Homo sapiens: one gene and its partners. The protein of the gene in region 1 interacts with the protein of each later gene in a pairwise test. Each region holds a gene or a part of one and is shown in the gene's direction. Other genes may lie near its edges. The genes, in order: ELMO1, DOCK4, DOCK1 and ZNF398.

Evidence for each region.
Region 2: the proteins of ELMO1 (region 1) and DOCK4 interact in a two-hybrid assay, tested with the Homo sapiens proteins (one study listed by BioGRID).
Region 3: the proteins of ELMO1 (region 1) and DOCK1 interact in binary tests that used the Homo sapiens proteins (3 or more experiments, as listed by UniProt).
Region 4: the proteins of ELMO1 (region 1) and ZNF398 interact in binary tests that used the Homo sapiens proteins (3 or more experiments, as listed by UniProt).

The regions. Positions count from the first base shown.
Region 1 is NC_000007.14:36,852,406-36,857,900, reverse strand, and holds the end of ELMO1 (engulfment and cell motility protein 1), read left to right. Parts: intron 1-2,149; coding exon 2,150-2,350; 3' UTR 2,351-4,995; downstream 4,996-5,495. UniProt on the Homo sapiens protein: Involved in cytoskeletal rearrangements required for phagocytosis of apoptotic cells and cell motility. Acts in association with DOCK1 and CRK. Was initially proposed to be required in complex with DOCK1 to activate Rac Rho small GTPases.
Region 2 is NC_000007.14:112,203,364-112,210,232, reverse strand, and holds the start of DOCK4 (dedicator of cytokinesis protein 4), read left to right. Parts: upstream 1-3,833; 5' UTR 3,834-4,094; coding exon 4,095-4,131; intron 4,132-4,164; exon of another isoform or gene 4,165-4,730; coding exon of another isoform or gene 4,731-4,860; intron 4,861-6,869. Other genes in the region: ZNF277 (zinc finger protein 277), read right to left, coding at 3,426-3,516. UniProt on the Homo sapiens protein: Functions as a guanine nucleotide exchange factor (GEF) that promotes the exchange of GDP to GTP, converting inactive GDP-bound small GTPases into their active GTP-bound form. Involved in regulation of adherens junction between cells.
Region 3 is NC_000010.11:127,447,421-127,453,045, forward strand, and holds the end of DOCK1 (dedicator of cytokinesis protein 1), read left to right. Parts: coding exon 1-125; intron 126-3,911; coding exon 3,912-4,007; 3' UTR 4,008-5,096; downstream 5,097-5,625. UniProt on the Homo sapiens protein: Involved in cytoskeletal rearrangements required for phagocytosis of apoptotic cells and cell motility. Along with DOCK1, mediates CRK/CRKL regulation of epithelial and endothelial cell spreading and migration on type IV collagen.
Region 4 is NC_000007.14:149,164,443-149,171,478, forward strand, and holds part of ZNF398 (zinc finger protein 398), read left to right. Parts: intron 1-1,715; coding exon 1,716-1,842; intron 1,843-2,374; coding exon 2,375-2,488; intron 2,489-7,036. UniProt on the Homo sapiens protein: Functions as a transcriptional activator.

The DNA.
Region 1 (5,495 bases):
CTGGTATGATGGAGTGTTCCAGGTTTATCTTTATGTTTCCTGCCTTTTCTCTGTGAAGCCTTGATTACTTGTAGTGGGAAATGATATTTAGTGACCAGAATCTAAGCATGAGTTGTGTTTATGGTCATTGCACACCACGATGCAGTGGTTCTTGGTTGGTCATTATTTTTTAGCCCTTTTTGGGGACAGAGCTAGGTGGTTTTCTTTTAAGATAAACTAATGAATTGATACTGATAGTTCCAACTCAAATTCAGTATCAGTACTACAGGGTTTTTATTTATTGGTCGATGTACTTTCACATAAAATTTTCTGTGCCTGTTGTTTCTAAAAAGAAACGTGCTGCAGAAGTGTTCCTGTGGGTTAAACTAATCTATACTAGGAAGCTAGCCAGGCCTGGGAAGGCTGTGTGAAAAGAACAGTAATCCCCAGGACTTGGGGATTTACCATGAAACAGCATGAAAGCTGGAAGGGGCCTTTGAGAATGTAGAGTTCAGTGGCACCCGTACCTGCGTGTTCGTTAGAGTTTTCTAGGAAGCAAAGTCTCCTCACCCTAGATCTACATGATCAGGATCTCCAAGGTAGGAGCTAGGTGTCTACTTCTGTCAAGGTTATTTATGAAGAAATTGATGGTTAGACATGTTCAGAATCAGATCATGAGGACACTAATTCTTCCGGAAATCCCTTAACACTAAATTGATGTTTCGATGGGTTAAATGCTTTGGCTGAGATCACATAGCCAAGGTAGAACCAAAGCCCTCCAAATCAATGCTGCCCTCCTGAAACACAGATCTCATAATACACCCATTGTGCATCTCCTCAGCTTAAAAAGGAGGACCGCTGATGTGCATCACGGAAGATTTCCATCACATCATGGTGACTGGAGATTTATATAGTGCTTGCAGTATACTTTGGTTACTTTTACGTTGAGATCTGCTACCATGGAATACAGTCCAGATAACCACAGTGCCAAAGTAGGTTAAAGAGGGTCTGGAATTGCCGCTTGAACTAGTGAGGCAGAAAAGTTGGGAATCTGGAGTGCATGGTAGAAGGAAGACCACTTCAACAGAAGAGGAGAACAATTGCTGTTATAGAATCCTATATAGGACTACTAGAAACCTAAACTCCAGTGCATGAGTGGAGCCCAGCATCCAGAATGCCAAGCAGCTTTCTGAGATGCTGGCATCAGGGGTGCCTCTTTCACCAGGTGTCATGGTTCTCTGTCCATGTCAGTACAGAACTCCAGCCTCTGGGAGGGGAAGCTAAGAAGAGAAAAGCAGGTCCTCAGACAAGGCACAGTTCTTCCTTCTCCCTCACAGAGATCATAGTCTCCTGGAGAGACAAAAGGCTATGAAAGGAGAAGAATCAGACTCTTAGTTGGGTACTGTGAAGGGCTTTCCAAAACAGATAATATCCCCAAGTATGAGGCCCCAGAGACCTGGTGAAAAGAAACCTTAGGAACTAGAGACAAAGGCTAAAGAGGTCCCCAGACAGGCAGCCAACCCTCCTCCCATTAAGATTGCCCAATAATTTTAACCATTTTGGCTGCCAGACACTGGGCAGCATAAGCCTATTTCCTAGCCCTTTAGCTGAGAAACACCAAGGTGGGACTGCCATTGGCCATTGGCTCCAGGGTGGGACAGGGCTGTCATTGTGAATGCTAGGATCAGACAGGACAGGCCGAGATGAGCTACTAGACTAGGAGCCATGACTGGAGTCAGCAAAGAAACCTGCTTCACCTGATGTTGAGTCCAGGGCTGTTCGGTAGATTCCACCAGTACCTAAAAGTCATAGACTCCCACCTAGGTGTTACATTGCAAGTCATGGAGAACTCCAATCCTCAGCTGTTACAGAGAAGCATTCTTTGCAAAGAAGAGCACAGGCACTGGAGTCAGATTGCCTGGGTTCAAATCCCACCCGGTCTACATAATACTGAGTCACTTCTCTGTACCTCAGTTCCTTCACCTATAAAACAGAGATAACAGAAGTATCGACTTTATATTGAGATGTCGCCAAATATGAAATGACGAAGTAGGCAGAGCCCTTAGCGCACAGCCTACTGAGGGATGAGTATTCACTGTTAGCTATTTTTACTATTAATACTTCTGTAATTGCCACCAGTAATGATCGCTGTTGCCTCCCTTCCTGCCAGTACTGTATCTGGACGGATGGACTGAATGCGCTACTCGGGAAGGACATGATGAGCGACCTGACGCGGAATGACCTGGACACCCTGCTCAGCATGGAAATCAAGCTCCGCCTCCTGGACCTGGAAAACATCCAGATCCCTGACGCACCTCCGCCGATTCCCAAGGAGCCCAGCAACTATGACTTCGTCTATGACTGTAACTGAAGTGGCCGGGCCCAGACATGCCCCTTCCAAAACTGGAACACCTAGCTAACAGGAGAGAGGAATGAAAACACACCCACGCCTTGGAACCGTCCTTTGGTAAAGGGAAGCTGTGGGTCCACATTCCCTTCAGCATCACCTCTAGCCCTGGCAACTTTCAGCCCCTAGCTGGCATCTTGCTCACCGCCCTGATTCTGTTCCTCGGCTCCACTGCTTCAGGTCACTTCCCATGGCTGCAGTCCACTGGTGGGACAAGAGCAAAGCCCACTGCCAGTAAGAAGGCCAAAGGGCCCTTCCATCCTAGCCCTCTGCAGGCATGCCCTTCCTTCCCTTGGGCAGGAAAGCCAGCAGCCCCAGACTGCCCAAAAACTTGCCCACCAGACCAAGGGCAGTGCCCCAAGGCCCCTGTCTGGAGGAAATGGCCTAGCTATTTGATGAGAAGACCAAACCCCACATCCTCCTTTCCCCTCTCTCTAGAATCATCTCGCACCACCAGTTACACTTGAATTAAGATCTGCGCTCAAATCTCCTCCCACCTCTCTCCCTGCTTTTGCCTTGCTCTGTTCCTCTTTGGTCCCAAGAGCAGCAGCCGCAGCCTCCTCGTGATCCTCCCTAGCATAAATTTCCCAAACAGTCCACAGGTCCCATGCCCACTTTGCGTCTGCACTGTGATCGTGACAAATCTTCCCTCCTCACCAGCTAGTCTGGGGTTTCCTCTCCCTGCCCCAGGCCAGAACTGCCTTCTTCATTTCCACCCACGCTCCCAGCCTCTTAGCTGAAAGCACAAATGGTGAAATCAGTAGTCTCGCTCCATCTCTAATAGACTAAACCTAAATGCCTCTAGGACGGACTGTTGCTATCCAAGCGTTTGGTGTTACCTTCTCCTGGGAGGTCCTGCTGCAACTCAAGTTCCACAGGATGGTCAAGCTGTCAGACATCCAAGTTTACATCATTGTAATTATTACTGGTATTTACAATTTGCAAGAGTTTTGGGTTAGTTTTTTTTTTTTTTTTTGCTTTGTTTTTGTACAAAAGAGTCTAACATTTTTTGCCAAACAGATATATATTTAATGAAAAGAAGAGATACATAAATGTGTGAATTTCCAGTTTTTTTTTAATTATTTTAATCCCAAACATCTTCCTGAAAATAACATTCCCTTAAACATGCTGTGGAATAAAATGGATTGTGATGATTTGGGGAGCTGGTGTTTTGATTTAGTAACTTAGGTTCTTGCTACTCAGTCATCAGCATCACCTGGGAGCTTGTTGGAGATGCCAGCTCTTCAGCTCCACCCTAGACCTGCTGAATTGGGTGATGTTTATGTACATTGGTTTGAAAAACACTGCTGTGGGAAACCCTCCACCATTGCTAGGTCACCATAGGCTCTGAGCATCAGTGGAGAATGTTACTTCTAAGAAGACCATCTCGACTCACTGAGAAAATCAGACCCACTGTATGAAAATATCTATTCCTTTTACATTGCTGTCTCTTGACCATGACTTTCTCTTTTTTCTTTCTTACCATGATATAATTTATAGAATGGGTCTAATTAAAGACATCACAACTTTGAGGGAGCACATTTAGCAATGAAAAGAATGCATACCCACAGACCTGAAATAAGCCAGAACTAAATAAATCTAACCGTGGGTTAATAAATTATAGGTCAGAGCCCAGCGAAGGATGTTTCTTAAGTCATTTGCACTGGAGGCATTATCAGGATTGTAAACTCCCAGCACTGGGAGGGATGTCAGAAGGGTCCAAGCATGCAGTATTAAGCGTGGCACAGCACCAGCCACTCTGGCCTCACAGCACAAGCTGTGGAAGCATCCAGGTCATTTCTCTTTACCGTCATCAGGATGTGCAATTACAGATTGACCTGGGTTGAGATGATATGGTCCAGAGCACTGCATGCATTGCAGGAAAAAAGTCCTTTGCATTCACAGGGGTTCCTTCTTCCCATCAGAGCACTCACACCTGTGTCAAGCTGTTAATTCCTTGATCATTAAGCTTCGATGTTATTAACATGTACTTGCTATCAGGAGCAGTTATTAATCTACCCATCATCATGATAAAACAGTAAGTGTTAGGTCAAAGGCAGCAAACAAAGTCATATTATTTTTTTCTTATGGGTTACAAGATCCAATCCATGAAAAAGGGAACTTTCTGGACCAGGATCTCTGAGGTCCTGAGACACTGGGTTTAAGAAATGTATCTGTCCTGTGACCTTGGTTGGGGAGATCCAGCCCCTCTCTCTTCTGGCACTCCAGCTTTGGTGCATTTAATAGAAAGAAACCTTTTCAGGACTATGAAAGGCAGCATTCTCCAGCTCCTCCCTAGACCCTCCTTTGGACCTGTGAGATCTGAAGAGTATGCCATCTGTTTCCATTCATTTTGTGACCATGTGGGGAAGGATTGTTGCCCATATTTGGCCACCTCACCTTCTCTCTCCAGGCTGCCCAAGGCTTTTTTTCCCATGCAATGAGCCTACCACCTCCAACTCATCTCCTGTTGCCTGCAGTTTCCTAAGCCTGGGCAACTCAGCCAAATCCAAGGCAGAAGTAAAGTAGGAAGACTGATGTTGTCGTGAAGTCCAAGTTGCATTCTGCTATTCATATTACTCAAAATAAAACTGATTACTTAATTTGAATCTGCTGATGTTTAAATTCCTCTCTTATTCTTGTTCAGAACACATAAGAGGAAGGAGAATTAACTGGCCTCTGAAACCTCTGTGACAACATTTAAGGGCAGGGAAAGCTAATAGTAATTGCAAAAGAAAAAGTGCAAGGCTGAATGTTTCTTGAGTCTATTTGCAAGTCCGTTCTAAGCCATCCTTCAGTTATCACCTACAGCATGTCCTGTCCACCTGCTTTTACAATGAACAAAGCAATGGGTGTCCCCAATGACATGCATACCAGTCATCCATTTTGTTTTAGTTATGAAAATACAATTAACACAATCCTTTCATTTTAAGGGGAAATGAAATATCCATTCAATAATCAAAAGTGTGCTTAGAGATAGGCCCTAGGAACTCAACAAGAACAAAATTTGTAAAATTGAGATTTGTAAAAATGAGAACAAAATTCATCAAATCAGGGAAATGACAAGCAACTTAGTCAAATATAAAACCGAAAAGTTGCAGCACAGTGT
Region 2 (6,869 bases), about 75 Mb from region 1:
TTTAATCAGAGCAAGAAGAAAATCTCTTAAAAGAAGCAGTTTTCAAGAAGTCAAAAAGGTGTATGTTTTTTAAAAATTTTATTTTTATTATACTTTAAGTTCCAGGGTACATGTGCACAACTTGGAGGTTTGTTGCATATGTATACATGTGCCATATTGGTTTGCTGCACCCATTAACTCGTCATTTACATTAGGTATTTCTCCTAATGCTATCCCTTCCCCATCCCCCAACCCCACGACAGGCCCGGGTATGTGATGTTCCCTGCCCTGTGTCCAAGTGTTCTCATTGTTCAATTTCCACCTATAAGTGAGAACATGTGGTGTTTGGTTTTCTGTCCTTGCGATAGTTTGCTCACAATGATGGTTTTCAGCTTCATCCATGTCCCTACAAAGGACATGAACTCATCCAAAAAGGTGTATGATTTTTACAGGGAAAGACATACTTGATAACCTAAATGACTGCCTAACAAAAAATATACTTTTAATATAAATATTTACACCTAAAATTTATATCACACCTTGTTGGCTTTGAAAAGATTTTGGAAAAAGTAACAGAATGATACATAGGTTATTAAGCAGAATTTTTAATGACAACTTTATCTTATAAAAATGACATAAAAAATCAACCATTAATTTCTCCTGTTGACTGCTACAAGTCAATGAGAATACTGGGTATTTCTCACCGAGGGTGAGAAATTTTTTTATGTTATAGATACCGCAAATTCACTACTACTCAACACTTTTATTGAAAACAAACTGGAATCAAAAACTAAGCTTTCTATCAGTTACTTAATTCAATCTACTAGTCATTGAAACATTGGTCCTGGATTATTTCCTCAAAGTTTGTGACAATATGGGGGAAAGAACACTCATATACTACAGGTGGCAATGTATGCTGAATATATTTTAAGAGGAAAGTCTGGCATCTGTCAAAATTTTAAACTTGCATAACCTTTGATCCAGCAATTTTCTCCCAAAATATACAACCAGTGGGCAAGAATATATGTACATAAAGTTGTTCATTGCAACATTACTGAAAAACTAAAGTCACACTATATGTTCATTTATAAGGGAATGGATAAAGAATGGCACAATCATATTTTGGAATATGATGGGCACAGTCCTTAAAAAAAAAGGAAACAAATGTACTGACGTGGAAGGGTTTCTATGATAGACTGCTGAAAGAAAAAAGAAGGTTGCAGATCTTTCAGTTTATATAGATTTATCCCTTTTTATTATAAAAATCAAATCATAGGCCGGGCGCGGTGGCTTACGCCTGTAATCCCAGCACTTTGGGAGGCCGAGACGGGCGGATCACGAGGTCAGCAGATCGAGACCTCCTGGCTAACACGGTGAAACCCCGTCTCTACTAAAAATACAAAAAACTAGCCGGGCTTGTTGGCTGGCGCCTGTAGTCCCAGTTACTCGGGAGGCTGAGGCAGGAGAATGGCGTGAACCTGGGAGGCGGAGCTTGCAGTGAGCCGAGATCGCGCCACTGCACTCCAGCCTGGTTGACAAAGCGAGACTCCGTCTCAAAAAAAAAAAAAAAAAAAAAAAATCAAATCATACAGACGTGTGTCATATAAGAATATGGTGGTTTAACAGAATACGGATTGTAGGATTAAAAAAAAAAAAAGAAGAAGAAGAATATGTTGGAAAGAATATGTACCAAACTCTTATCACTTAATACTCGGGGAGTGGTGCTGTGAGGTGAGGGAATTTTCATTTTTTTTACTTCATACACTTCTGAATGGTTTGAAGTGCTTTTAAAAACTTTTAAACTTGTAAAATTTAAAAATAAATATTTTTAAATATTTTACATTTTTGAAAGGCATATCCTTTTTTTTTGTTTTGTTTTTGATACAGAGTCTTGCTCTGCCTCCCAGGCTGGAGTGCAGTGGTGGATCATGGCTCACCACAACCTCCGCCTCCCGGGCTCAAGGGATTCTCCTGCCTCGGCCTCCCGAGTAGCTGGGACTACAGGCATCCGCCACCACGCCCGGCTAATTTTTGTATTTTTAGTAGAGACGGGGTTTCACCATATTGGCCAGGCTGGTCTCGAACTCCTGACCTTGTGATCCACTCGCCTCGGCCTCCCAAAGTGCTGGTATTACAGGGGTGAGCCACCGTGCCCGGCCATTTTTTAAAATAAGTTAGACTGTGAGATAAATTCACCAGTTTAGATCTTAAACTGGTAGCCCTCTGGAACTTTGAAAATCTAGGAAACCGTAATAGTCTGTTACCATCAGATAGCCCAATATATAACCAACCCAAAAATAAACCATTAGGGTGTTAAATTCAATATTTAACTCAGGAGACTACCAAAGATTTGTTTGGTAGAGGTACTAAAATAATTTCAGAGTAGGGAGTTCCACTGTTGGGAAGTGGGAAAAAACTGCACTTCAACTCTGTGCCGCTGAGGTAAATACTTAAGATGATATCAATTTAACTGTGAAAGCAAAAACAAATAAATCGAAAAACAAAGTCGCAACAGTCTGAGAACTATATTTAAGCCCCAAACCATGTTCATCAGAAAAAGACAACTTGTGCTAAATTACACATCAAGACAAAAATGGGGTGGGGGGAATGGGGGAGGGATAGACTAAAGGTAAAAGAGTCCTAAACACAATCCACCTGCAGCTTTCAAAATTTGGTTTTTTATTCCTACAGTGGATCAGAGGACAACCTGAAAGTCAGGTACAGCCAAAGTTGTGATGGTTTTCAAAACTCTTTTCAAATGTTCTTTGAAGCCACGAGTGCAAATTATCTATCACTTTCCTTTTCTTTCTCTAAGGACCCAGAGACTGGGAAGATCTCTCAGGCTCCACATACAAATCTGAAGAACACCCAGAGCAGTTAACCATCTACAGGGAGGTTGTGAGATACACACACTTTCCCTTCAGAGGTCACCTCAGCCACAAACTGGGCAAATCTGTAGAGTGGAGAGCAGTGACCACCAGTCTGCGACTGGAAATACTCCGGAAGCTAAATAAAACACACCTGCGAGGTCAAACCAAGCAAACCAAGGCAGTGTACTGGTGAGGAGAAAGAGCTGCTAATCCCAAAATTATAAACACACGCGCGCGAACCAGATCTGAACCAAACCCACTCAGCAGCTAGCTCAAAGCTGGGAGCTCCAAACCAGAAGACAAACGCTCAGGGAGCTTCCCCGGCGGAGGGGAAGGCCATTCCATGGCATTTTCTCCGCCATCCCATGGCATTTTCTCCGCCATCCCCGGGCAGCCCCAACCAAGTAGCCGCCACCGGCTCCAACCCATCCCGCTGGGCCACCACCCGTGGGGCCCAGTCGAACCCAGGTGGCCCCAGAGCTGAAGGGCTCCTAGGGTCAGACCAGAGGTCCGTTGCACACCCGGTCATAGAGAAAGGAAGACACATCAGCCGCGCCTCCGGGGCACCGTACTCACCCCCATAACCTACACCCCCGACTGTGCTGCAGCTCCCATCACGGTCTTCCTGCATTCGGGCGACAGCCCCCTGGGTCTTGGAAGCAGCCATTACCCGGCAGAAAAGAAAAGGGAGGGCCGCAGGGCGGGTCGGAGGCGGGGTGGCACCAGTAGAAACGCTACTGGAGGCGAACTCCCCGTCGACGTAATGTTTTCTCCACACCTACGCCGCGCTCTGGACCAATAGGACGCAATCAGTAAAACTGAATCCCCGCCCCGAACCACATTTGCCGCGCCCACTTCCGGGATGGGGAGGCCAAGAACTACAATTCCCAGCGTGCTGCGGGGCCCTGGGACGGGAGGGCTGGACTAGGCGCTGGCGGGCGGGGGTGCGCCGGAGAGTGCCCCGGCGTGTTCGCTTAGTTCAGTGAATCAGAACAATGACTGCGCCGCCGGGTACCCGGGAGCGCGTCGGAGGACTGTGAGCAGCCGCCGCCGGGAGAGCTGCGGGCGGCGCAGTGTCAACGCTGGGCTCGGGAGCCTCCAGCGCAGATCCTGCCCAGCGCCCGCAGCCCGCGCGAAGCCGCTGGGCTCCGGCACTGCAGCGCTGCTCGGGGACTGTGCATTGTTGTGAGCCGGAGAAGGGGCGCGGGGATTACAAAGCCTGAAGACCCCGGAGCCCCTTTAGCCATGTGGATACCTACGGAGCACGAGAAATACGGCGTGGGTGAGTCTCCGCGGGGCGAACTTTTATTCTGCTCTGGCCCGAGCGAGTGCGCATTTCTCGTCCTTGCCCCCGCGCCCCTCTCGCTCCGCCCGGTTGAAAATGCCTAATCCTGGCATCGCGCAGCTGGTACGGGGCTTTGCCGAGCCAGCTCCAGGCAGAGGGCTGCGCACCAGGCTCTCGCCCCGCACCGCCTGCTCGGCGCGCCCCGCACTGGTTCCCGAAGCGCCGGGACAGCTTGGGGGAGCGCGCGGCCGGCCCGCTAGCTTCGGGCTCTGCCTGCGGAGTTTGGAGTGGCGACTGGGCGTGTGTGTGTGTGTGTGTGTGTGTGTCAAGTTGGAAGAGGAGGCGAATGGGGTTTCTCTCCTTCCTTACCCTTCTTCCCCAAAGCGACAGGGAGCTGCAACGGTTCCTCTGGGTGGAGAGGGAGACAACAACACTCGGGCAGAGAGAACACCCCCAAAACAGTAGGGAGGCGCAAACCCTTCCCTCTGGCTCGGATCGACATTCCCGGAGTGTGGAATGTGGCAGGGTCCTGGAGAGAGCCGCTCTGACAAGCTGAGCCCTCTCTGACCCTCCTCCCTCTCTGCGATCCCGGATTTATGGGGTGTGTATGTTGCGGGGCGGGGGCATTGGTAAATTTCAACATCTGCGCCGCTCGGTTCTTTGGTCTTTGGAGAAGAACGGGTATTTCAGCAGTGTTTTTACTTCTGGCCACCCTCTCGACCCCGGGTGAGCGCAGTGGGGGCGGTGTGGCGGTACAGGGCTGCTGAGTGATAAATGGGGAGGGGGATCGGAAAGCCTGGTTCTTGGGGGCAGGGAGATAGCTTTTAGGAAAGCATACCCTGACACTGGCGTTCGGAGAAAAAGGAACAGGATAGCTCTCGCTGTTCTGTGTAAAGGTGAACAACAAAGGACATTAATGTTGACTGATGAATACAGGAGTCTCCCTTCCTTTTCCTCCTCCCATTTCAGGCGGGTTACAGTTCCCGTTTTTGTTGTTTGATTTCAGCTGGGTCGCCCCTTGACAGTTACTCCTTTTAGGGTTGAGACTATTAAGAAGCCAGGCTCTCCGACAAGGCTGCAGCCGGCCAAATGCAATTATAACCTCCCAGAAGGTCTAACAGAAAGCATTATGGATTTTACTAACACTCTTTATTTCCTATAATGCCCTGTTCTGCCGACTGGTGTACTTTGTGTGTGTGTGTGTGTGTGTGTGTGTTTTAAAATTGAGGACAGGTCTAGTGATTTAGGTGATGTGTAGATATCTGCTTATGTTCTAAATTCATTTTCCTGCAATTTAAAACATCTGGAAAGCCTTCCCAGGGAGTCGTAGTCCGAGGGGATTTTTGTTTTTTTTTTTCCCAACTTTGCCTGGGGATAGGACTTTGGGGTCCATTGAAAGGACTGTAGGATTCAACAAAATCATTCCCACATTTCACGTTAGCTTCCATTCTGGATTGTGACTAATTACCAAGACAATAGTTTGACCTGAACCCACCTTTGGGAAAGGTTTCCAGCTTTCCCTCCTTCAAAGTGTCAGAGGAGTCTTTGCCAGCCTCTTTACTGGCAAGGAGTAGATGTTAGTAGTTGTTATTTTCGTTCTCCTCACTCTTCTCTTTTTTGGGAGGTAGATTAACCCTTGCTAGGGAAAAAGATAGTCCCTTTGCTGGACTGGTGAGGGACCCGAGGGCATCGCCTCCTAAGCGGCTTTAACACTCAGTGCAGGAAGCTCAGATCCATCCAGGCAAAACTGTCCTGCTTGGAGTCGATCCCAGATGTTGCTTTCTTCCAAGTGTTAAATTATACAGATTATGGATGGGATTTATTTTCTTGATTTCTTCATGTGCCAGGTCACAGCTGGGGTGCTGGTATCGATTAGTTCCTCTCTTGCCTTTCTTTACAAGCGGTGGGCAGAGGCTTAAAAACCACTCTGGGATTTCCTGGAATGGCAAACCGGATATTATCAGTCAAATGTTTTGGGCTGCAGCAGACACCTCGGTTTTGGGTGGTTGTGATTTGATTGCAGAGTAGGGGAGGCAGAAGGGTGTGCTCACAATTGAGAAAAAGAGGTTGAATGAGATGAAGGACGAGAGCAGAGAGAGGGTCTTTTGCCCCAAATTACTGCTGTTGTTCTCAATATCACATGTGCCAGAATGTTAATTAACCTTTATTATTAATTTTTGAGCATTTGGATTGTGGAATGCTTAGCTGTTTTTTAGAATCCATCTGTTAGGCGTGTGTGTGTGTGTGTGTGTGTGTGTGTGTGTGTGTGTGTAGTGAAATTTTTGCTAGGATACTTATGTGTGGACTTTATTTTTCACCATGGAGGGCACTGTTTATAGCTGCTTATATTGCAAGTTGTTTGTTTTTTCTTTTAACCTTGGTTAATGTTTGTGTTTTTCTCATGTAGTTCTTACAGATGTTAAAGAAAAGATCTTATGGGCACAGATCTTTGTTACCAAGTGTAGTGGTAATTTAGTTTCTTCATTCTTTGAAATAAATCAGTCTTTGTAACAGAATATGTGACGTTTTAGTATAAATTATATATTTCTGCAAAGGTACTTTTTATATACCCTCATTTATGTATGAGATAATTATGCTTTTATATACTTATGATTAAATTTTAAGCAGCATACTGTAAACATGGGTAAAATTAGTTAAATTTTATATCTGTAATTAAATGTATCGGAGATGGAAATTCTTTTTCGTAACTGATGTATAGGCACCGTCCCATTTAA
Region 3 (5,625 bases), on another chromosome or scaffold:
CGGACGTGGCCGATGTCCCACCCCCTCTGCCTCTCAAAGGCAGCGTGGCAGATTACGGGAATTTGATGGAAAACCAGGACTTGCTGGGCTCGCCAACACCTCCACCTCCCCCTCCACACCAGAGGGTAAGTCGGCAATCTGAAACACAGGCTTTCATTGCTTCGCCTCCACAAAGTAGGACGAGTCCCTCATTCCAGATACTAGCAGGTTTACTTCGGGCTAGTGAGCACATGAGGAAAACCATGTATGATGGGCCCGGGTTTGATTTTGCAAAAAGATATCGAAGCAGTAAGGACTCCAGTGGGTAAGATCTGTGGCTCTGCGTCATTATCAATAACTGCATCAAAAAGCACATTTTGATATCATGCCTCAGAACGAGGAAGAGGATAGACATTCCAAGGTTGTCATCGGTTATCATCACCATGGAGATCATTCCACTGGAGATGCAATTCTAATGACATTTTGATTTTTGAGAAGTAGCTTTTCTATCAAGAGGTCTGACTTTTTAAAGAGGTTGGCCAATATCGCCCTGTATGGCAGGCACCTGTTGTACACCTGCTTGGCCCTGGAGAAGCTTGTCTCCAAACATCCCTCCAGGCAGCCTCACCTGGTGCTGGGAGCTCCTGGGTGGTGACAGGCACTCACCTTACGGAGACTGCAGAGGACAGCCAGGTTTGGCTCCTGGGCACAGTCATCCTCACTGTGCCCCCACCCCTGGGCACCCTCCCCAGTGCTAGTTCGGGGGTGCTGACCTGGCTTCCTCCAGCAGCACTGGCCTTTGTAAGCCTAAGCAACCTGCTGGAACCCCTCTTCAGCGTGAGTCCCTGAAGCTGGTACCCCCCAGCAGCTGTTTTAGTCATTCATGCCACCCAAAGTGCCTTGTGCCAAACAGCCCCTGGGCCTGCCTGCCCGTACAAATATTAGTCAAAGTCATGAAAAGCCATTTAAACAAGCACCTCAGTTACCAGTTGACAGTTCTAGAAACATTCTTTTGAGATCCACCCCGTTCCTCTCCTGGTTCTCAAGGATGCTGTCAGGCGTCACTCATCCCTGCGGGTCCCAGCCCCATCCTCATGTCGGGCCCAGGCATGTGTGGAGGGCAGCATGAGTGGGATGGAGGCGGGCGAGCGATTGACTCAGCCACGGCGGGAACTTCTGCTTCTAGGCTCAGGCCTCCCCAGGCCATGTTATTCACAGCCTTTGACAATTAAATCAGTGGTGTCTGAAGGGTAAAATATCCCTCTTCATATGTGGACAGCTGGCCGTATTTTTTTTGCTATCCAGCCTTAGTGAAGTAATTATATGGCCGCAAAACTCCTGTAGAACATTGAAAACATGAGATTGTTGGGTGGCTCTGTTTTTTTCATAATGGTGAGACATGGTTTTTTTTTTTATTTTTCTTTAATAAACAATATAAATCCCACGTGCCATTTCTTTTTCTTTTTTTTTAATGGAGACTCGTTGACGGAGTGTTCCACAAGGTCATTACATCCCTTATGAGAGGAGTGGAAGAGAGAGGGTGTTTGTGTACAGCATACGTATTTCATCATTCCCTTTGTATCAGAAAACTAAACAAGCAGTCATCTTTAATATCAAAGAGGCAGATTGCTCTTCTGAGACCCAAGTGCCATTTAAACAGGCTCCCTCTCCCTAGAGACGCCTCGATGGGGAACCGGTCCTGGAGGAGGCACCAGGTTCCCCTGTGAAGAGGGCTTTCTGGCAGGCTGGAATGGTTTGTTGCACCACAGAAATGGAAGCCGGACCTTCCCCGGCCATTTCTAACTACTTGTGAGAGTAAAAGGAGATTCGGGGGGGTCTAACAAGAATATTGGGTTGCTTGGAGTATTGTTTCCCTAACAGCTTCGTTAATTGGTCACATTCTCTTCTCTCTATTTTATTGCAAAGGCAGGAATGTTCCCCCTAGTCTCCCTACACTAGTAAACTGAAAATTCTAAACTTAGAATTACAGCCAATTCCTCTTCTTGTTACAAATCAACTCCGGGGTAACATTTTATTGTCTCAATTTCTTGGATACACCATTGTGGGTTACTGATGCCACATACAGTTGATTAAGTAAGGGATAACATGGATTAGCTCTCTCTCAATTGATAAAGGGCGTGTGAATTCAATTAGATTAATGACCCAGGTGTCTTTGGTCTTTGTTTCTTGTTTAATTTACTTGCAGCCTGAGTGCATGCTCAGGTGACACGCTGGTGGTTAGTATGTCATCATTAGGCAGAAGCGGTTGCATTTCCTGGGGTGCCTCCCTTTGCACAGGCCCTGAGAGCTGTTCTAGGATAATGATCATCCATCTGCCATGATGGGGGTGTGATCAATATCCTCCTGTCACTCTCATTGATCAGCCTCAGGCTTGTAGGCAACTCTGTCTTTAGTTGTTGCCACTAAGCTGTCATTTCTTTCCAAATGGCTCTTCCTGTCAGTAATCTGAGCTTACTGAGTTTATCACCATTAATCATTTTGCTTAATGGTGATAAACTTTTGACATGCTCATACTTGGCATAGAGGTCATTTGCAGCGCTGTGTTGGTATCAGGCTGTGTTAGTGTGGTCCTTACCTGCTCCTCATTGGCCTATCAGTGAGTGTGGCTTTCACATGTAAACAAACAGTTTCATCAGACCTCAAAATAGATGTCTCTTTTAACGGTTCTAACCAACCTTAAAAAGACTTAATTGTTGTTTTACCTTCCTTAATATAAGGTCATACACTCATAGGACATCTTTATATCAGCTTTACTTTTCCACATTTATTCTCCTCTCTGTGTTAAGCATTAGGTCATTTTTGTATTTACTAGTCTGTGAATCAGGAGGAAATCTGGGCGATGAGTGAGAGACTACTGCGTCACTGTCTATCCTTGAAAACCTCTTTTCTCACATTCAGCTAAATGCAAACCCACACTGAGAGGCTGATAAAAATCCACTCTTACCCTTAAGTTAGACGATAGTGTTCTGTGATTTCATTCTGGTTCTTCTGCCTGTGGCATGCTCCCACTTACCCTGGTCTGTTCACTTCTTCATTCATTTGTTTACTTACCTGTTCATTTCTTCATTTATCCACTGACTCGTTTATTCACTCATTCATTTATTCACTCATTCATCCATTTTTCTATTCGATTGACCCATATTTCTAGAGAGTCTCCTGCACATCAGGTGTGTGTGATGGGCATGAGGGTCCCAAAAGCAATAGGGTGCAGCTGCCCTCAGTCATAACACTCCAGCCAGGTCCATCAGCAAGGGGTTTGCTATTATCTTCACATTGGAAATTAATGTTCTTTTTTGGAATCTAAAGTAATATATGCCCATGAGCTGAAGCCAGCCAGCCAGCCACCTGTTTCTGTGAATAGTTTTCTTGGAACACAGCCACACCCCTTTCTGTACACACTGTCAATGACCGCTTTTCGGCCACACCAGTGGCATTGAGTGGCTGCAACAGAGACCGTGTGGCCTGCCAAAAAGCTGGAAATATGTACTGTCTAGCCCTTTCCAGGAGAAGCTTGCTAACCTTTGCCCGAAGCTCAGAAAGCAAAAGAAGGTCTCTCATCTCACCCCTGGAGAGTGCCTCTAAGGACTTATTTATCCCTTAGACAATAGATGGATAACTTGGTCGATAGCATCTAGATTTAAAAAGGCCACGCAAAGGGCAATGGTACCTCTCAGGGGCTGTGCAGACGGTGGGAGAGTGCTCAGAGGCGTCAGAAAGGCCCAGGCCCATAGCAGCCCAGTCTTGAGCCTAGTAGACCTGCCAGCCCCAAGTCGGACAGGATGGAGCCCAACTCATGTGGGGAGGATGGTTCCGGCTGAGTGGCTGTGCCAGGTCAGACCCCACCTGGAGACGGTGTCTTTTCTGTCAGGACATCAGTTATGTGACATCTTCCCCATCCTCATGTTTTTTAGCATCTGCCACCTCCACTGCCCAGCAAAACTCCGCCTCCTCCCCCTCCAAAGACAACTCGCAAGCAGGCATCGGTGGACTCCGGGATCGTGCAGTGACGTCGCAAGCCTCTCTGGAAAGAGTGTGCTGCCCCTCCCCATCTCCATGCCCTCTCCTTCTGTGTCCCCTGAGTCTGCTGTTTACCTCATTGGGCCTGTGATGTTAACATTTCGTGCGACTGCTTTTTCTTCAAAGGAGTTCAGTTCTCACCATGGAGTGAGTGGCCTTTAGCGTCATGGAGCAAGGTGGGTCTGGGAGGTAGATATGGGTCCGGGATGTGCTATCGTAGTTATCAGAGTTGGGGGCCTCTGAGTGTGTCTGGCTCTGAGAGAGTCTGAGTCTTGCCCAAACATTCTTTCTTTTTGTGCCAAATGACTTGCATTTGCAAAGAGCTCAATTGCTCTGAGCTCAGCCAAGTAGGAGAGGCTAGGCCATCACTCTTAGGAAGCTGTGTAGTGATGATGTATAAGAATCCTCCTCACTGTCATGGGATGTTGTATCCAGCCCCTCCTTGTTCCAGCCGGTGGTGTGACTTCGTTGGTTGAGGTGTGTCTCCAACCTACATCAGACCATGAAGTTCAACCCCTCCAGGGAAGCTCCTGATTTCCCCTGCATAATTGAAAATAGGATATTTCTCAGCTATTGAACAGTTACTAATTTATGGGGTGGAAACAGCATTAAGAATACTGAATCAAATGGAAAAACAAATGAATACAGGAAGATAAGTGTTCGTTCTTTTCTGAAAAAGAGTATGTGTACCACAAGAGCTGGTTTTAATTGGGTGAATTGTTTTTGTCCTCATTCTGTACAGAAATTTGTATATATGATGGTTCTTAGAACTTGTTTTAATTTTTGTGGTCCTTCCGTTTATTATAATAGGCGTCCACCAATGATTATCCATATGTGTTCTTAATTTTTAACTGCTGGAAGTGTTAAAACACACACACACACACACACACATTTTTTTTTTGAGAACTCCAAAGTCCTGAAAATTTTGGTGGACAATGATTTTTAAAAAACTAACTTTGTATAACCTAATATTTGTATTCTCTCATCTATATTTTTTTATTCACTATAATCATGATACTCTTCTAATAGACTTAAAAGTTAATCATTGACAACGAAAAATAAAATGTTATTTTAAAAGACTCACAGTGTCTGACCAATTATGTTTTCATCCTTGATTGTAAAATACAGACGCTGCTGTTTCTGTTCTGCTATGTTAAAGTGCTTGGTGACACACATTTATATATGCACCTCTTCCTCCAACATTGTTTTTAATCCTCTCTGTTAATTGTGTCTGATCTGGAGCCCAGATGGGAAGTGCCCGTGTCCCGTGCATGGCTGCATGTCCTGATAGACAGGAGCTAAGCAGAGACCAGCTGAGTGCTTCCCCATCACCAAAGCCAGAGGGCTGTGGGGCTGCAGATCATGTGGGCCTCTTTTCAGCTGCTAATTTAAGAAAGGGCTTTGGTTAATGGGTGTGTGATTTAGCTGTAGAGGTCTGGACATGGAGAGCTTTCTCCAGGGCCTATCTGGCTGGATCTGGGGTGGCAAGAAACAAGGAAGGCAGGGGGTTCTCTTCTCAATGGACGGGGCTCTCACCTCTGCTCCTGCCAGACGTGTGGAAGCCATAAGGATGTGCCCTCTGCCCATCTAACCCGGCCTAGAAGGAGG
Region 4 (7,036 bases), about 110 Mb from region 1:
AGAAATACACTGAGCACTAAAGTCAAAGAACGAAACTTTCAAGCATACTAGAAATAACAGCCATGAAACTAGAGGCAGCAAGAGTGAGCTAGAAAGGGAAAGGAAAAAGATTCAAAGTGAACTGGATGGTTTACTGTCAGACAATGAAATTCTGAGACCAGCTATTGAACACCACAAAGTGCCCTTAGTAAAAAAAGATCATATATTAATATGTAAGGCACCAGATGCCAAGGAAGAAGGTTGTAAAAGACTTCTGGCATTACAGGATGAAAAGCTAGAATTTGAAAACAAGTTAGCAGATAGAAAATGAAAGTGGATCATGATGTCTGCAAGCAATGTGAAAAGCATCAGTGTGAAAAGAAATTGTGGGAGGCCGGGCACGGTGGCTCACACCTGTAATCCCAGCACTTTGGGAGGCTGAGGCAGGTGGATCACGAGGTCAGGAACTCGAGACCAGCCTGACCAACGTGGTGAAACCCCATTTCTACTAAAAATACAAGAATTAGCGGTGTGTGGTGGCGGGTGCCCGTAATCCTGGCTACTTGGGAGGCTGAGGCAGGAGAATTGCTTGAACTCGGGAGGCAGAGGTTGCAGTGAGACGAGATCGCGCCACTGCACTCCAGCCTGGGTGTACAGCGAGACTCTGTCTCTAAAAAAAAAAAAGAAAAGAAAGAAAGAAAATGCAGAGGAAGAAAAAAACGAAAATTTTGACCTGGAATAGTAAATCAGTAGTTTTCAGATCCAAGTTACCTCACTTGCAGAGTTCGAACCGAATGCTGAAAGAAACGATGGAGACATTAAAACAGGAATGCTGAAATATAAGAAATCAAGCTGAGAAAGTCTAACTAGAAGTCAAAAAGACATTGGAAAAAGAACAGACACAGCAGTTAGAAGAAAAGCATATGCTTCATGAATGTATCTCAGGGAAATGTACAGTCAAGCTAAAGAGAAATTGCAGTGAGCTGCAGTTGCCCAGAAAAACAGGAAATCTTGCCGTGAAAACAATTGAAGAGATGGCAGGACAAGGTGTAAATCTTGGAGGCAGGTAGAGAAGAAATGGAAACAGAAAATTGGGTTTTAAATAGACAAAATGTTCCATTTGAAGAATGTACAAAGCTTCAGAAAAGACTAAAGGATACACACAGAAGACATAATGAATTTTGAAGTTTAATTTTGGTTCCTAACATGCCTCCAAAATCAATCCTGTTTGCTCTCAGTCATCAGCCATGGTATTATCCTTTCCTCCTCATGTGCACGATGAACAGCATCAAAGGGAACTCTGTACTTGGCAAAAGACTAGAGGAACTAGAAACAACACAAAGAAAACAAATAGAGGAATTTGGATCTCCTGGAGAGTGATGTTCTTAGAGAAAAGGCATTTTAAAAGAGGTGAAATCAAAGACTCAATAAAGCTTGAAGTTTTAACATACATGGTATTTAGATATTTTATTACTGCTTACCAAAATACTCGAATGTGCCTCAAGAAAAGGTACCAGCTTTATTTAAGGGACTCGTGCTGTATTGCATGAGTACTAGGATTTTAGGATTTTCTAATGACAAGTGAAGCATTAAAAGAAACCATTTCAGAGATATTTAGAATATTTATTGACCACCCTTTGAAAATGTAAAAAAAATAAAAGGAACTAATTGGAAAGAGATTTATTGAATGACTGAATTATAATGGAAGGGACTAACCCATGTGATTGTAATTTTAGGTGCCTGTGGCATTTGATGATGTCTCCATCTACTTTTCCACTCCAGAGTGGGAAAAATTAGAAGAATGGCAAAAGGAACTTTACAAGAATATCATGAAGGGCAACTACGAGTCTCTCATCTCCATGGGTGAGGCTGAGTTGACACCTTTTGAATGAAGTGACAGCAGCTCCAAGAGGGCTCAGAACAGTCCCTTTTCCTCCAGTGACCTCATTCTCACTCTGTCTTCACACACTTCAAATTCTGGTTTCAAGCCAAAATATGACCAATTAATGCTTGCTAACTAGGAATCATAATCTCTCTTTTTACCAAATTGTAGGACAGAGAATGAAGTTCAGGGTTATGGGTGTGACAGCTGGTGGTTTCCATGGGTATCCTTCACTTGGAAAGGAGCTTGACTTCTCCCCCTTGAGGCACACTGTCACTCTGAAAGCAGTGCTAACCTAGCACATGTGCTTTCCCCACACATTACATCTCCACTGCCTGCTTTCCTGAATAGATATCCACAGCTGAAGATGGATAGATGGGAAGAAGTGATATGAAATCTAAAAGAAATTCCCTGGCACTGTGACCACAAAGCTTCAGCTCAGCCTTGATGGCAATTAGTTGTCATCCTCATTTATCTCTTTGTAATACTCTCTCTTCCTTTTTCCTCTCCTAGATTATGCTATAAATCAACCTGATGTCTTATCTCAGATTCAACCAGAAGGGGAACATAATACAGAGGACCAGGCAGGGCCAGAGGAAAGTGAGATTCCCACAGACCCCAGTGAAGGTAAGTGGGAGAAGAGATTCCTACTTCTTGTCTCCCTTTCCTGGTCAGACATGGTGGCTCAGAGCTAAGCAGGGCTTAGGGGCTTCTAGAGCCATTCATTGCTAAAGCAACTAGATTTTGAATGTGTCATCAGGCATTTAAATATAAAAGGGAGCTTAGAGGTCACCTTGTCCAGTGTCTTCACCTATCAGTACTACACACCTAACAGTTACAAGTTGCATTTCCTGACAGAAGTACTGACACCTAGCTGTTTAATAAAATAAACATGTCCTTACATGATGAAGGAGGCAGTCATGCTCATCTGGACTAAATTGGCTTGAGCAAATATAAGCATGGCCCTTCATAAGTGCTGAAGGGACTAGGAGTCTGCATGGTCCCTCTAAGATGCATGGAACCAGTAGACACTGATGACATCCACCTGGGCAACATGGATTTTCTCAGGTCTGGGAAGCTGGCTATCATGAACTCTTCCTAACTTTTTGGTTGGCAGCTGCTTAACATTGTGTGGGAAAGACTGCCAACCAAAGTCCAGTTTTATTGTTTCTCTCATGCCTCACCTTGCTGTCAGAAAATTCTCATACACTTTTTTGTTCTTTGATGGATAGAAGCACACAGAAAGTTGATCCTCCGGGCATCTCTATTATATGAACTTCTCTTACAACCCACCCGCTATCCCATATAGTTATTTTTTTCTTTTTCTTTTCTTTTTTTTTTTTTTTTTTGAGACGGAGTCTTGCTCATGCGATCTCGACTCACTGCAAGCTCCGTCTCCTGGGTTCACGCCACTCTCCTGCCTCAGGTTCCCAAGTAGCTGGGACTACAGGCGCCCGCCACCACGTCCGGATAATTTTTTCTATTTTTTAGTAGAGATGGGGTTTCACCATGTTAGCAAGGATGGTCTTGATCTCCTGACCTCGTGATCCACCCGCCTCGGCCTCCCAAAGTGCTGGGATTACAGGCCTGAGCCACCGCCACATTTATTTTTTTCTAACATTTTATTATGAAAATTTTCAATCAGAAAAGTTAAAATATTTTTATAGTGAACACCTGGATATCCAGCGCCTAAATTCTGCCACTAACATTATACCATCCTTCCTTATCATGCATATATCTATCACTGCATCACTCCATCCAGCCATCCGTCTATTATTTATTTATTTATTTTGGAGATGGAGTCTCACTCTGTCGCCCAGGCTGGAATGCAGTGGTGCGATCTTGGCTCACTGCAACCTCCACCTCCTGGATTAAAGTGATTCTCTGGCTCAGCCTCCTGAGTAGCTGGGATTACAGGTGCCCACCACCACGCCTGGCTAATTTTTGTATTTTTAGTAGAGACAGGGTTTCAGCATGTTGGCCAGACTGGTCTCGAACTCCTGACCTCAAGTGATCTGCCTGCCTTGGCCTACCAAAGTGCTGGGATTACAGGCATGAGCCACCGCACCCAGCCATCTATCCTATTTTTGATGTATTTCAAAATCAGTGAAGACATCAATGCATTTTCCTGTAAATAGTTCAGCATGAATATTATTAACCTAGAGTTCAATATTTGTTTTTTTCTTTTCAGGTAAATTTTACATATAATGAAATTTCAAGTCTTAATTGAGTTTTAAGCAATGTACACATCTGCCTCACATTTATTATTATTATTATTATTTTGAGATGGAGTCTCACTCTGTCGCCCAGGCTAGAGTGCAGTGGCGTGATCCTGGCTCACTGCAACCTCCGCCTTCCAGGCTCAAGTGATTCTCCAGCCTCAGCCTCCTGAGTAGCTGGGATTCCACGCCCGGCTAATTTTTGTGTTTTTAGTAGAGATGGGGTTTCACCATGTTGGCCAGGCTGGTCTTAAACTCCTGACTTCAAGTGATCCACCCGCCTTGGCTTCCCAAAGTGCTGGGATTACAGGAGTGAGCCACCACGCCCGGCCATATTATTTTTTAAGAATGTGTAGGTGATTGCATTTAGTCAGTGTAACACGTTGCATTTTACTAATCTTTATATCACAGATATAAGTAATGAGGCTAAAATAATACCACCAATAAAGATGAGTGACTTGACTACAGAAAGATTTCTTATTGGGTATATTTCTTTGGTCTACATTATTAGTTATCTGTCATAGACCTCAGCAAGTACAAATGAATATATCATTGTATTTTATGGGATGGGTGAAAAAGATAACAAGTAATTAGGTTTTGTGATAACGTATCAAAGTTTCATTTTGCTGTTATCTTGTCAGTTTGTTTTTACCATGGGTTTTCAAGATGCTCATGCCTCAACCCCCTGAGTAGCTGGGACTATAGGCATGTGCCACCATGCCCAGCTAATTTTTGTATTTTTAGTAACGATGGGGTTTTGCCATGTTGGCCAGGCCGGTCTTGAACTCCTGACCTCAGGTGACCCACCCACCTCGGCCTCCTAAATTGCTGGGATTACAGGCATGAGCCACCGTGCCTGGCCTGTTATTTTCTGTTGGTTGATCAAATTGTCAGCTTCACAATTTCTTTCGTTTGTTTGTTTGTTTTTAAGACAAGGTCTGGCTCTATTGCCCAGGCTAGAGTGCAGTGCCATGATCAGAGTGCAGTGCCATGATCTGAGATCAGTGCAGCCTGTGCCTCCTGGGCCCAAGCCATCCTCCCATCGCAGCCTCCCAAGTAGCTGGGACTACAGGCACACACCACCATGCCTGGCTAATTTTTGTATTTTCTGTGGAGATGGGGGTTTGCCATGTTGCCCGGGCTGGTTTTGAACTCGTGAACTCAAGTGATTCACCTGCTTCGGCCTTCCAAGGTGCTAGGGTTACAGGCCTGAGCCACCACACCCAACCTCAGTACTTGTTTTCTTAAAAAAAAATATGCTCCTGGCTCTGTTGGAGGGCCCAAAGACCACTCCCAGATTTCGTGATCTGCTAGGAGGACTCACAGGATTCCCATATGGTTGTACTCACAGCAAGATTTGTTAGAATGATACAAAGTAATATCAGCAAAGGGAAAAGGTACCTGGGACAAAGTCTGCAGGAAACCAGGGACAGGCTTCCCAGAGTCCTCTCCCAGTGGAGTCTTATAGGATATGCTTAATTGTTCCAGTAATGAGTTGTAACAACCAGAAAAGCTCATTAGAGACTCAGTGCCCAAGGTTTTTATTGGGGGCTAATCACATGCATACCCTCTGTCTAGCACTTACCCAAATTCCAGACTCATAGAAGGAAAGCACGTGTTCTGCATATACCACACTGTTTGACAAACACAATCATGCGCTGCTGAACAATGGGGATATCTTCTGAGAAATGCATCATTAGTTGATTTTGTCATTGTGCAGACATCACAGCGTGAACTCACACAAACTAGATGATGTAGCTTTCTATGTACCTAGGCTATATAGTATAGCCTATTGCTTCTAGGCTACAAACTTGTACAGCATATTATTGTCCTGAATACTGTAGGCCATTGTAACACAATGGTAATTGTGTTTGTAAACACATGTAAAGATAGGAAAGGTACAGCAAAAATCTGGTGTAAAAGATACAAAATGAGCTGGGCACAGTGGCTCATGCCTATAATCCCAGCACTTTGAGGCCAAGGCGGGTGGATCATGAGGTCAGGAGATAGAGACCATTCTGGCTGACACGGTGAAACCCTGTCTCTACTAAAAATCCAAAAAATTAGCCAGCCATGGTGGTGGGCGCCTGTAGTCCCAGCTACTCGGGAGGCCAAGGCAGGAGAATTGCTTGAACCCAGGATGCGGAGGTTGCAGTGAGCCGAGATTACACCACTGCACTCCAGCCTGGGCAACAGAGCGAGACTCCATCTCAAAAAAAAAAATACAAAATGGTACATCTCTATAGGGCACTTGCCATGAATGGAGCTTGCAGGACTGGAAGTTGTTCTCACTGAGTCAGTGAGTGAATGTGAAGGCCTAGGACATTACTAGGCTGTAGACTTTATAAACACTGTATACTTAGGCCACACTAAATTTATAGAAACATTTTTTCTTTTTTTTTTTTGAGCCTCCTGGGTTCAAGTGATTCTCCTGCCTCAGCCTCCTGAGTAGCTGGGACTGCAGGCACGTGCCACCACGCCCGGCTAATTTTTTTTTTTTTTTTTTTAGAAGAGATGGGGTTTCACCATGTTAACCAGGATGGTCTCGATCTGCTGACCTCATGATCCACCTACCTTGGCCTCCCGAAGTGCTGGGATTATAGGCATGAGCCACCGCGCCTGGCCAAGAAATTTTTTCTTTAACCATAAATTAACCTTAGCTTACTGTATTACTTTATAATACAGTAATATACTTATAATACTACTTTATAATATAGTAATATACTTTTATTATTTTATAACTTTCTGACTTTTGTAATAACACTTAGTGTAAAACATATTGTACATATATACAAAAATATTTTTTCTTTATACCCTTTTTCTATAACTTTTTCCTATTTTTAAATTTTTTTACTTATTTTTTTGAAATGAAGTCTTGCCCTGTCGCCCAGGCTGGATTGCAGTGGCGCAGTCTCCGCTCACTGCAACTTCTGCCTCCTGGGTTCAAGTGATTCTC